2 separate regions of the Homo sapiens genome follow, and region 2 is linked to region 1. Evidence: fine-mapped expression QTL. Tissue or cell type: prefrontal cortex. Region 1 holds a variant in brackets; the other region holds the start of a gene. All regions are shown on one strand. Distances are from middle to middle.

The links. PIP is the estimated chance that this variant, and not a neighbour inherited with it, causes the effect.
Region 2: TMEM54 starts here. The variant in region 1 is fine-mapped to the expression of TMEM54 in prefrontal cortex (GTEx, PIP above 0.99).

Annotation. Positions count from the first base shown.
Region 1 is chr1:33,019,933-33,022,612 of GRCh38, reverse strand. It overlaps AK2 (adenylate kinase 2), which reads left to right. Exons shown (of 6, transcript NM_001625.4): 3 at 910-1,020; 4 at 1,152-1,246. Among named protein-coding and RNA genes, the nearest start is that of AK2, 16 kb to the left of the region's middle. The variant A/G (reference allele first, on the strand shown) is at 1,441.
Region 2 is chr1:32,899,806-32,902,485 of GRCh38, reverse strand. It overlaps TMEM54 (transmembrane protein 54), which reads left to right and starts at 1,097. Exons shown (of 6, transcript NM_033504.4): 1 at 1,097-1,263. The coding sequence starts at 1,248. LOC105378632 (a long non-coding RNA gene) reads left to right here. Exons shown (of 3, transcript XR_947161.3): 3 at 559-829. RefSeq lists a silencer at 968-1,107.

The DNA.
Region 1 (2,680 bases):
GGCTGAGACAGGCAGATCACTTGAGGTCACCAGTTCGAGACCAGCCTGGCCAACATGGTGAAACCCCGTCTCTATTAAAAATACAAAAAATTAGCTGGGCATGGTCGTGTGCGCCTGTAGTCCCAGCTGTTTGGGAGGCTGAGGCACTTGAATCACCTGAACCTGGAAGGTGGAGGTTGCAGTGAGGGGAGATTGTGCCACTGTACTCCAGCCTGGGCAACAGAATGAGACTGTCTCAAAAAAAAAAAAAAAAAAAAAAAAGTGAGGGAAGAGTGTTGGCTTGGCTCTTCAGTTCCTTGGTTCTGACCCAATCTTGCCAATTCAGTGAACTTCTCTGTTTCCTCATGTCCAGGATGGCCCAGATGTGTAACCAAGTACACACATCAGTCACGTTACTGTTAGCCTAATGACAGCTGTGGAACAGGGAAAGCTGATGCCTGTGTTTTGGTCAACCCCATTCTCTCCTGGCACTCTCTCAGGTGGTCTGTCAGCCATTTGTCCTCACATTTCCTGTGCCTTGAGGATCACTGATTGCTGATAAGCTGTTATCTGACAGTTTGGACTCTGGACTCTAGTGGCAGGAGGGACCTTCAGGACCTAAGATACAAAGCTCTCCTGGTGAAGTAACAAGTAATGGAATCTGTCTTCCCTCACCCAGATTTTTGGGATACAGGAGAATTTCAAGAGACGAGAGTGTGTATTTGGCAACCACAGAGATAAAATTATGAAACTGGATCTTCCAAATGGAGCCATTTCACGTTTGCTTTTATTTTTGCTTCTTTGGGTCCAAGAAAACTTGCTGTTTAGTAATAAGGTTATATACACAAACTTTTGGCTGTGGAGTTGGGCTAATGTCAGTCACCTAGGTAATGGATTTAAACCCAAGGCTATTTTGTTCCTAACTTCCAGGTGAGTGATGAAATGGTAGTGGAGCTCATTGAGAAGAATTTGGAGACCCCCTTGTGCAAAAATGGTTTTCTTCTGGATGGCTTCCCTCGGACTGTGAGGCAGGCAGAAATGGTGGGTAGCTTAGTTTTTATATTACTACTGCATGAAACCAAATTCTTGTCCTTTGTCTTTCTTAATTCCTTTGAAGGAGATGGGTCTAACCAAGCTCTGGTAGCTTAGGTGGGCCACACATTCTTTTACAGCTCGATGACCTCATGGAGAAGAGGAAAGAGAAGCTTGATTCTGTGATTGAATTCAGCATCCCAGACTCTCTGCTGATCCGAAGAATCACAGGAAGGTATTTGTCCCTTGAAGGTCCCTTTTCATGCTTCTCAGAGCTTTCTCAAACTCTGAGAATTGCTCTTGCCTAATCCCGGCCATGAAGCTTAGTGCCATTTCAACATGGATTGATTTTATTTGGTGACATCCGCTGAAGTGGTGAGATGGGATCGGGATATGGAAAGAAGAGCAAGGGATTTGAAGTCAGACAGC[A/G]TCTCATTCTTGTCACTTTTTTTTTTTAGATGGGAGTCTAACTCTGTCGCCCAGGCTGGAGTGCAGTGGCGCAGTCTCGGCTCACTGCAACCTCCACTTCCTGGGTTCAAGCAGTTCTCCTACCTCAACCTCCCAAGTAGCTGGGATTATAGGTGTCTGCCACCAGGGCTGGCTAATTTTTTTGTATTTTTAGTAGAGATGGAGTTTCACCATGTTGGCCCGGCTGGTTTTGAACTGACCTCAAGTGATCCGCCTGCCTCGGCCTCCCAAAGTGCTAGGATTACACGCTTGAGCCACTGTGCCTGGCTCTTATTGCTTTTTTTTTTTTGAGACAGAGTCTTACTCTGTCACCCAGGCTGGAGTGCAGTGGCGCGATCTTGGCTCACTGCAACCTCTGCCTCCCCGGTTCAAGTAATTCTCCTGTCTCAGCCTCCCGAGTAACTCGGACTACAGGCATGTACCACCACGCCCAGCTAATTTTTGTAGTTTTAGTAGAGACAGGTCTTCACCATGTTGGCCATGCTGGTCTCAAACTTCTGACCTCAAGCAATCCACCTGCCTTGGCCTCCCAAAGTGCTGGGATTACAGGCTTGAGCCACTGTGCCTGGCCTCTTGTCACTTTTTAACTGTGACCCTAGGCACATTTCTTAACCTCTCTGAGGCTGTTTCCTTATATGTAGAAGGGGGTTGATAACACCTGCTTTGAGAAGCTATTTCACGTGTTAGGTAACATAAAATGCATAGTTCAAAGCCTTGCCTATATTAGGTGCTTAAGAAATGTTAATGTCTTTACATGTGTATCTCCTCCATTTTAGTGCTCCTTAAATCTGATTTCAGCTGGAGTTGCCATACTTTGCTGTAGACTTTTTATTGTAAAAATAATATAACCATCTGTACAAAGTTTAGAAAATGGAGGAAGAATTTGCTCATAGTACAGCCACTTTGTGTGTGTGTGTGTGTGTGTGTGTGTGTGTGTGTGTGTGTTTTAACATGTTTGTTTCTCTGTAATAGCATTGAACACAGAAATGCCTCTGCTTCTGGACACGTTTGTTCTGACAGACCAACACTGCTTTAGCCTACAGTTGTCTCTACCCTGTTTCACTAATCACTGCCATCTGCTTTGTGCCTTCCAGAAGTATGACAGAAGCTTTCAACTGCAAATGGACCCTCCATTCCCTTCTTTATTGTGGGCTGTAGCTTTTTTATGTCTTTGTCATTTTAATGGTGTCTCAGGAAAGTG
Region 2 (2,680 bases), 120 kb after region 1:
CTGTGGTCTCTGAGCCCAAAGGTGCAGGAATGGTACCTATGCCAAAGGGATGCTGAGACTAACAAGGGACCTCACTGGGGTCCATCCTGACACATTAAAGGGCTCAGCAACCCAGAGCAGTACTAATAAAGCTCCTACTATGTGCTCTTGCTAGGTCTACACTTTGTCCATACAGACAGTCTGGAGAGTTTCCAAAGCGTGTTGTTGTTGTTTTGTTGTTTTGAGATGGAGTGGCGAGATCTCAGCTCACTGTAACCTCTGCCTCCCGGGTTCAAGCGATTCTCCTGCCTCAGCCTCCAGAGTAGCTGGGATTACAGGCTTGCCCCACCACATCCGGCTAATTTTTGTATTTTTAGTAGAGACGGGGCGGGGGGGGGGGTGCGGGGGTGTTTCACCATGATGGCCAGGCAGGTCTCGAACTCCTGACCTCAGGTGATCTGCTTGCCTAGGCCTTCCAAAGTGCTGAGATTACAGGCATGAGCCGCCGCGCCCGGCCGAAAGCGCTTTCTTACCTAATTTTTGTATCCTATTTTGTCTCACCACGACCTTCGGGGACAGGAATTATCCCTGATTTTCCAAGGACGGAACTGAAGGCCCTCCCGACTAAGAAGGAGACTTAAAGCGCCTTTTTCAGCGTGGAAGACAAGACTCGCGGGCGCTAAAGGCAAGCGCAGAGAGGGGAGGCGATTTGCCTGAGGTCACACAGCAGGCAGGGGCAGACCCCAATCCCCAGCAGCTCTTTCACTGCCCCTGCTGCCCCTCTCCGTCCCAGCCTTGGGCCCGGGGGCTTTCCGCCCAAGAGCCACACCCAAGTCACGGTAACCACAGCTACGCCGGCAACCCCCAACTTGCCGCGGGCCCGCGCGGGGCGGCTCCTCAGAGCCTCAGTTTCCCTTTCTAGAGCGGGCCCGCCGCCGCCGGTGGGCTGAGGGAGGGCGGCTCGGCGCCGGGCGGGCCGGGCGGGGCGGCGCCTGACTCAGCGGGCGGGCCATGGGCTGCTCAGCCGGTCCGACCGGCCGGGAGGGGCACGAGCCGCGGGGGCGCTGCGGGGCCGGGCGGCCCGGGGGGTGACGGGAAGGGAGGCCGGTCCGGCGCCGCCCAGCCCCGGGCTCCGGGCGGGAAGTGGGCGAGCGCGACGGTGCGGGGCGCGCGGGCGACGGGCCAGCGGGATGGGAGCAGGGTCCCCCGGCGGCCCGCAGCCTCGGGAGCCGCGCTGAAGCCGGGGGCGGGACCAGCGCGGAGCCGACATGTGTCTGCGCCTCGGTGAGCGACTGGGGGCGCGCGGGAGGCCCCGAACCACCCCAACCCTCCCACAGGAGCGGAGCACTGAGCCCGGAACCCGAGCCCCCAGGGGGCCAGGCCACCTGCTCTGCCTCTAACTTACTACGAGGCCGGGGTCGGGTCACTTTCCTCTCTGGGCCTCAGTTTCCCCAGCAGTGAAATGGAGGGGAGGAGCGCTGCGGGTGTCTTCTCGATGTGGCTGTAGCGTCTCTTACCCTCGCCCTCTCTTGCCTTTCCTGCGGAGGCGCACGACTGCCCTCGGGGACCCCCGGGTGGGCGGCAGAGGAGACGCTGGAGAGAGCAGCCCCATCTTACCCAGAAGGGACCCCGGGGCCAGGCCTCAGCTTCCCCACCCTTACAAGGGGCTCCCACTTACATACTCTCCACTCTCCCGAGGCCAGGAAGGAAAGCCGTGGGCAAAAAGGATCAGCAGCGGGGGAGCGGGACTAATGTGCCCCCTCCTTCCACTGCCTGGGCACGGTGATGCTGCTTGTGGGCAGCAGAGTCCTGGGGCATCCCCGCTGTCTAGCCGAGAGACCTTGTGAGCCTCAGTTTCTTTGTCTGTAAGAGGGGGACAGTAGTTCCCACCTCCTAGGACTACTATGAGGATGAGGGCAGCTTCTAAGAGTAAAGCGCTTAGCACCTTGCCGGCTGCGCTGCTATGCGCTCCCACAGTGGTAAGACAAATGAAGCCAGCTGGGCTTCATCTGGGAGGCAGCACTCTGGGAGGCCGAGGCAGGCGGATCGCTTGAGTCCAGGAGAGACTAGCCTGGCCAACATAGTGAAATCCGTCTCTACAAAAAATTTAAATAAAGAAAAAAAAATTTAGCCCGGCTACTCAGGAGGCTGAGGTGGAAGGATCACCTGAGCCCAGGAGGCAGAGGTTTCAGTGAGCCACGATCAGGCCAGTGCACTCCAGCCTGGGCTACAGAGTAAGACCCTGTCTCAATCAATTTAATTTAAAAAGTCAAGGACTGCTCCAGGCTCAGTCCAGTGCTCCAGGCACAGCCCCATGCTGGCACCGTGCCTCCTCTTTGACCAAAGTCTTGGTCCTGGGATGCTGTTGTTATTGAGTCCAGCCCTCAGCTGGAAGGTAGACACCGAGCTCCCAGGTAGGTGGGTGGAGGGGGTGAGGTGGGTCAGGCTCCTGCGCTGAAGCTGCCATGCCCCTTCCTGCTTGGCTGGCAGTCCATCTTCACAATGCTATTCCAGTCTCATGGTGCCTGTCCAGCCCATCGTCTGCCCTCTGCTTCTGCTAGACCTGGTTCAGCTCCAGAGGGTCCTGCAGTCTCCAGGGGTCTCAGACACTGGCTGGACCAATGCCTCCCCATTTTATAGATGTGGAACTTGGGGCCCAGAGGGGAGGGGCTGGTGCATGGTCACACAGCAAGTCTGTGAC